2 linked regions of the Homo sapiens genome follow. The protein of the gene in region 1 purifies or fractionates together with the protein of each later gene. This does not show direct contact. Each region holds a gene or a part of one and is shown on either strand. Other genes may lie near its edges.

The links.
Region 2: the proteins of LGALS3BP (region 1) and TUBGCP2 purify together in Homo sapiens (affinity purification with mass spectrometry; 4 studies listed by BioGRID and IntAct, with this or other methods). This does not show direct contact.

What each region holds. Positions count from the first base shown.
Region 1 is NC_000017.11:78,973,200-78,976,943, forward strand, and holds part of LGALS3BP (galectin-3-binding protein precursor), read right to left. Parts: intron 2,958-3,744; coding exon 2,766-2,957; intron 1,621-2,765; coding exon 1,489-1,620; intron 24-1,488; coding exon 1-23.
Region 2 is NC_000010.11:133,281,154-133,284,897, reverse strand, and holds part of TUBGCP2 (gamma-tubulin complex component 2), read left to right. Parts: intron 1-895; coding exon 896-1,016; intron 1,017-1,676; coding exon 1,677-1,820; intron 1,821-2,555; coding exon 2,556-2,675; intron 2,676-3,461; coding exon 3,462-3,625; intron 3,626-3,744. UniProt on the Homo sapiens protein: Component of the gamma-tubulin ring complex (gTuRC) which mediates microtubule nucleation.

The DNA.
Region 1 (3,744 bases):
CAGGGTGTGGGTGCTCCTGGTTTCTAAGAAGGGGCGGGAGGGAAGTGGGCTGCGTTAGGAGCCGGGGCACTGCCACTCTCTGGGGTCAGTGTCTTCATCTGAAAGTGAGGGATTTGTGGCTGCCTCATTCACTCTGGAAGGCTCCTGGGAAGACGAGGGACAAGAGAGACCGGAAGTGTCGGATTCCTGGACCCTGAGGCCCCGCCCCTTCCAGCCCTGGGGAACAAGAGCAGCTAGGACCTGGCCAAGCCTGTCCAGGCCCCCGCTTTAGGCCCTCTGCTCTGTGCTGCTCCCCCGACTCAGGCAGCAGCTCCGCATGGAGACTTGGTGGTACTGACTCCGGAGCCCCCACTCCCCAGCCTTGGTCACCAATCACCACTAACACCAAAACCACTGCCTGCTTAGATGGCCTGAAAAGTTAGGGTCCTGTGGCAACCCCATTTTAGAACTCCGGGGGTCCTCGAGCAGCTTCCTGTCGGGGAGAAGGCCTGCAGAAGTCATGGGAGGCTCCCGGCTCGGGGGTCAGTGTGGTGCACCCTCTCCCCTTCTTTGAGCCCCTCTCAAAGCCTAACTCAAAATGAAATCCCATAGGTTTTTCTTCGCCACAAATATAGTAGTTTTGAAGTAACTGTGACCTTTCAACCAGGTGGGCTTGCCCTGGGCCTCCTAAAACCTGAGCCACCGCAGGACCCCCAGCTCCCTCCCACCTGCACGCCTTACCACAGCTCTCCTGCCCCAGGAGCTTTGGCCGTGCGCCCATGGCCCCGTGTGCTCCCCGCCGCCTCCCCTGGCCCCCGACAGCCCCATGGCGTCTCCTGGGCTTCCCCCACTGTGAGTCCAGGCTCAGCTCCAGCCACTTGTCCATCCCATGTGGGCACAGGGGCTCCCTGGGATTCGACCCGTCCTGCCTTAGGGGCCTCCAACTCCTGGCAAAGGGCAGTGGGCAGGAAATGCCCAGGTTGTCACGTGCAAGCCCAGGAAGAGCCACCTCGGCATGAAAGAAAAACAAGAAACTCAGATCCAGAGGCTCCAACCTGCAGAGCAGCCTGGGTTCCCTCCAAACTGGGCCAGGTTGGGGGAAGCAGGCTGAGGCTGCGAGTAGCCGGGACTCCCTCCGCCAGGACGGGCTTGAGCCTGTCGCGTGCTGTGAAGTGTATTTCTGAGCGGACGCTGGCATTTCAGGTCAGGCTGGAGCCAGGTGTCATGCTCACTGAAACTGTGGCTCACTGCCCCACACTCGGGTTCTGCATGGAGACTTGGTGGTTCTGGGTGTTTCTCCAGAAGGGGCTGGGGAGGAGTCTGGGACTGTGGGACTGGGAGCTGGTGGGCTCTTGGGACGTCTGGGCCTCTCCATGCGGAGTGGGCAGGCGGTAGTGGAAGGAACCTTTGTGTGCTTCATGTGCGTGGGGGGGTGGTGCTGGGAGGGGCAGGGGCCACGGGACCCCAGGGCACACTGGGGCCTCCGCAGGGAGGTGCGCCCCCGCTCACCATTGGTGCAGACCACACCAGCGTCTCTCTCGTGCCTGCAGTTGCTCTTCAGCCAGCCCAGGGACTTGCAGTCGGCCAGTGAGGCCTCGGTTCCCGTGCACTGGACCTCATCCAGCATGATGGGGCCTGATCCTGTGGACACAGCAGATGGCAGGGCTGGGGGCGTGACGACTGCACCCAGGAGTCCCACAGCGCGACTCAGCCCTTTGTTCTCCGCCCCGGCCGTGTGGGTCCATCTGCTTACAGGTCCTTCACCAGCGAACCACGGAGGATATTCCAGCATGGGCTGGATTTGTGATTGCAATGTCAGGCCATAAACTTAGCCTTCATGCTTATAAAGCTTACCGGCTGCTTCAGCGACATCACATTCATGTATAGTAATTGTGTGACTATCCCTGCAACATCAGTTTCACATACTGTAATTGTGTGACTATCCCTGCAACATCAGGTTCACATACTGTAATTGTGTGACTATCCCTGCAACATCAGGTTCACATATTGTAATTGTGTGACTATCCCTGCAACATCAGGTTCACATACTGTAATTGTGTGACTATCCCTGCTGCTAAATAGTTTATGGATTGTTTCTTTTTTTTCCAGAATCGCAACTGCTGTGTCAGTGGAAATCTTCCTGCAGACTTTTCTTTTGAGGAGAAATTGTTTCAATGGGATAAACTCCCTGGAGTGGAGTTTCTGGGCCGGAGGGAACGAGCCCAGCCGAGCTCTTGAACCTGCCCAAGCACCCGCCACCATCACTGGCCAAGTGTGGGTGGAGCAGTCCCATCAGAACTTGATCCGCAGGCCTTCAGCACCATTGAAAATGTTTGCTCATAGGCCGGGTGTGGTAATCCCAGCACTTTGGGAGGCTGAGGCGGGCGGATCACTTGACACCGGAAGTTTAAAAACCAGCCTGGCCAACATGGTGAAACTCTGTCTCTACTAAAAAATACAAAAATCAGCCGGGCATGGTGGCAGGTACCTGTAATCCCAGCTACTCAGAAGGCTGAGACAGGAGAATCACTTGAACTCAGGAGGCGGAGGTTGCAGTGAGCCGAGATTGTGCCACTGCACTCCAGCCTGGGCAACAGAGCGAGACTCCATCTCAAAAAAAAAAAAAAAAAAAAAAAAAAAAAAAAGTGTTTGCTCTTGCTAAATTAATAGGAATCCAATTTGCATGTCTTTGAAACCTGACTGTTTCGTCTTAGGGGATTTGCCCCTCCTGGGAGCTGGCTGTGCTGTGGGTCTCAGCCTCAGTGGAAGGGGACAGCAGGCCCTACCTTGCCCGAAGGCAGCTCTGCCCAGAGCCTGGGTGGCGTTCTCGAAGCCCAGGGCCCGGCAGACGACGCTGGCATCAGTCAGGTCCCACAGGTTGTCACACACAGTGCCCCACTGGCCTCTGTAGAAGATCTCCACGCGGCCCTGGTTGGTGGCGCCCCCATCGGCCAGCCGCATGTCACCATCGTTCACGCCTGCAGGCAGAGACCAGCGAGGGCGAGGCTGGGGCCTGCAGCACCCACCGCCCACACCTCCAGGCCCCATATGCTGTCCTGGGTCTCCCCTGCTGAGCTTGTATTTCAGGGCTTCAAGGTCCCCTGGCCTCTCCATGAGGGGCACCTCCATGAGGGAGGAGTGGAAGATACATACAGCCCCCCCTACCCCGCAAGGAGGCCAAACTCGCCTTTCCTTGTTTTAGGGGTCTCAGCCCTTCACTCCATAGACAGAACAGGGGCAGAGAAGCCCTGAGTTCTCCAGCACTGGGAGTGGAGGTGGCAAGACCCTGAGGGAAGGATAGGAGGGGAACGGAGGCCCCGTGCTGACCCGCCCTGCAGAGGGTGTCTGCAGTTTGGGGGTGCTGGCCTATGGGGGCAGCAGGCCTAGGGACCCCTGGGAGCACAGGCAGAATGTTTCCAGGGCAGATAATGGGATTCCCCCGCCCCACATGTCCTTCTGGGACTCAGTCCACCAACACTCCAGCCCCTACAGGAGCTGACAGAGCCGGGCAGGAGCTGGGTGCCTGAATCCAGTCGGGGGTACATCTGGCTTCCATGGGGCCCCCAGGATGAGCATGAGCTTCCAGGGGCTCACAGTGTAAAGAATGTGAGGAAAAGCAGCCAGGACCCTCTGGAAGACTGACCTGCGTCCAAGGCCACTGACCTCACAACGGCCCCTGTGACTGCTGGTTTGATCAGCCCCTCTGGTTCCCTCTGGACGGAATGGAGGATTCCCTAGTGTCCTCTCTATAACCTGCATCTCACC
Region 2 (3,744 bases), on another chromosome or scaffold:
GCTGCACGGCGCTGCCGTCCACCCCACAGGGGATGCTGGCTCTGTCCCTCAGCCCTCTCTGGAGCCTTGTGGTGACTGCACGGGCATGGAGACTGCCCAGGTCGGTGTGCAGGACACTAGCTCCTCCCGAGAGCGGACAGCCACATCTTGCTGGGACCAGAGGTGCTTTGCAGCCGGTCTGTGCCTCTAGGGTGTTGAAAAAAGGGGTCGATGGCAGAGCTTCATAAGAATTTGTCCAGTCGGGTGCAGTGGCTCATGCCTGTAATCTCAGCACTTTGGGAAGCTGAGGAGGGAGGATTGTTTGAGCCCACAAGTTCGAGACCCGCCTGGACAATGTAACAAGAGCTCATCTCTTAAAAAAAAAGAAAATTATTTTAATTAGCCGGGAATGCCTGTAGTTCCAGCAACTCAGGAGGCTGAGGTGGGAGGGTTGCTTGAGTCCAGGAGGTCAAGGCTGCAGTGAGCCAAGATCGTGCCACTGCACTGCAGTCTGAGCGACAGCAAGACCCTGTCTCTCGAAGAAAAAAAGAAATTAGAAGAAAAAGAACTCATCTTGATGATGAAGCACAAATATGCATCTGTTGTGTGGCACTTTCCTGGCGTGGGCTCCGAGGGGTCCGTCCACCAAGGAGCCCGCGTCCCAGTCTCCACCGTCCAGCTGGCTGGGGGTGTCCCTGCAGGGCACAGGTTGGTAGACGGTGACAGCTTGTGCTGGGCAGACGCAGGAGCAGCGGCCGTGAGTGTCTGGTGTGCTGGGAGGGGCGCTTGCTCTGCAGAGGAAATAGCCACGTCCAGAGAACGTCCTCCATGGCTGTCCTCCGTCCTCCGTGTCACTTGGTGGGCGCTGTCGGGGCCGCGTCCTCCATGGCTGTCCTCCGTCCTCCGTGTCACTCAGGTTTGCTGGGGCTTTCACTCTGCGGCAGCGAATGCTCAACTTCGTCCAGAATATTCAATACTACATGATGTTTGAAGTGATGGAACCGACCTGGCACATCCTGGAGAAAAACCTGAAATCCGTGAGTTTTAGCTCCACAGATAATAACGTTTGAAAGCCACTTTCCTTTCACAGGGAGACAGGAAGTGCAGGAGAGGCAGGGCGAGGGGAGAGGCAGGGAGTGCAGGAGAGGCAGGGAATGCAGGGAGACGCAGGGAGTGCAGGAGAGGCAGGGAGTGCGGGAGAGGCAGGGCGTGCGGGAGAGGCAGGGAATGCGGGAGAGGCAGGGAGTGCAGGGAGACACGGAGTGCAGGAGAGGCAGGGCAAGGGGAGAGGAAGGGATCCCCCAGGGCGGGGCTGCACCCACACTGCTGGCCACACACGGGACCCCTTGCTGCCTGCCGTCCTAGGGGGACTCTGAGCCGTCTTTGCCCCGAGGTTGTCTCTCCCACATTGCGCATCTGAGGCTGAGGGGCCTGAAGGCAGAATCTGTTGGTACCAAATTCCAGAAGCTGCCGCAGCCTCCCTTCCTGTCTTCTGCCTTAAGAAATGAAACCCCTTCGGGGTGTGCCCATCATTTTTTTAGTGGTGTTTGGAAGTTTTCCCCTAAAAGCCCAAGGCCCATTTAAGAGGTAGAAGTGCGTAAACAGGAATGCACAAAGCCAGAACTGAGCACGTGCGCATGCAGGGCCCGTCTGTCAGCCACGTCTTTCTGAGAAGGGGCTTGGCCTGTTCCCCGCAGGCCTCCAACATTGACGACGTCCTTGGCCACCACACAGGCTTCCTGGACACCTGCCTGAAGGACTGCATGCTCACCAACCCCGAGCTGCTGAAGGTCTTCTCCAAGCTCATGTCTGTGTGCGTCATGTTCACCAACTGCATGCAGGTGCGTGGGTGTGGGTAGCACCATCGGGTGGGCAGGCGCGGGTGGGCAGACCATGTCCCGACCGTGGCCGCACGCAGCCTGCTCACGTTTTCCTGCCCTTGTGTTCGTGGAGGAGCCGCTGGGATCTGAGTGTTTCCAGAACTCCTGGTCTTCCTGGCCGGGTGATTCCCTCCTGGAGCCCCTGCCCTGGCAGCGTGGGCAGGGCTGTGTTCCTCCCGAACCATCCCTCAGCCTCTGTGGTGCTGGTCTCTGTCCGGGGCCTTTGCTTATGGCCCTTGCATGCTCTTTTCCTCAGCACTTGAGCTATTTGATTCCGTTAAGGACCTGCAGGCACTAGTCACAAGCAGCTGCCGACTGGCGATGGTGCAGAACCTGCGTGTCTAGTGGCAGAAGCAGGGGTCTGAGAATGAGGCTCTCCAGGCAGTGCCATGGGGAGGGTCCGGAGGAGGGCGAGTGGGGAGGTGGAGGAGGGCATGGCCACTTCAGGGTCCCAAATAGGGAAACACCAAAATAACTGTTCTCAGGAAAATCAGCTGGTCACCGTGGAAGGTAGACCTGGGAATTCTGTCGGCACAGATAAGTCATTTCCCCTGCAGCCTCAGAGATGCTTGTGTACCCCCAGCCGCAGGCTACAACAGAGGTGCGGAGGGTGACGTGCCTGCAGGACTTGTTTTTTCTGCAAAGCATTGTGGTTGTAACTAACAGAAGCATTTCCTTGCGACTCTCCCCCCCTAGAAATTTACACAGAGCATGAAATTAGATGGCGAGCTGGGCGGGCAGACGCTGGAGCACAGCACCGTCCTGGGGCTGCCCGCAGGGGCCGAGGAGCGGGCCCGGAAGGAGCTCGCCAGGAAGGTGCGTGGCCTCCAGGTTTGGCCAGAGAGAGACGCTTCCTCCCGGCTGGGCGGCAGCCTGGGCATCCTGACGCAGGGAGAACAAACCTCCCCCCTTTTACTTCCATCTCCCCTCAGATTGAAGAAAAGACTTAAAATTAGCTTCCAAGCACAAGCACAAGAGCCTCTCACAATCTTCTCAGCTCTCTGGTCCCCACTTCAGCCAGTCGGGCTCGAGGGAACCCCCACAGATCTTCAGAGCGAGCGCTGTGCAGGGCGCCTGGGCGAGGGCAGGGGCCACACCCGCTGTCCCTGCTGAGCTCGGTCCTGAGTTAGAACCGTCAGGCTCTCAGCAGGCACGGACAGGCTGCATGTCCTCGGAGGCATGGCCCTGCGGCGCCGGCTCCGGGGTGGCATGGTGGGGTGGGCAGTCCCGTGTTCACACGCTGGAGCTGGAGCTGGCAGAGAGGAGTTGGGTTTGGAAGCGTGGGGGCCGGAGGTGAGGGACACTGAGAGGCGCCCCGACCTCCTTGCTGAGAAAGCTGCTGGGAAAGCTCGTTCATCTCACCCCAAAGGAGAGTGACCACCTCATCCCACGAGGCCTGGAGTGTTTCTCTGAGTGCTGGGTTCTCAGGAATGTTTTTTGATGTCTTTTTTACCTTGAATCTCCTGAAAACATCATGGAACCCATGTTTTCTATTTAAGAAAAGGGGAAGGGAAAGGACACCGGCCTGCTGGGAACAGTGTGGAGCCAAGAAGGCCCACGGTGGGGGTGGGCATGGCTCACGCACCCCGGCTTTCTTTCCAGCACCTGGCTGAGCACGCAGACACTGTGCAGCTGGTGTCCGGCTTCGAGGCCACCATCAACAAGTTTGACAAGAACTTCTCAGCCCACCTGCTGGACCTCCTGGCCCGGCTGAGCATCTATAGCACCAGTGACTGTGAGCACGGCATGGCCAGCGTCATCTCCAGGTGGGTGGGCGCCACCCCGGCTCAGCCCTTCCTCAGCTCAGTCCAGCGCCTGCCCCTGCCCAGCACCGCCCTGGCTCAGCCCTTCCTCAGCTCAGTCCAGCACCTGCCCCTGCCCAACA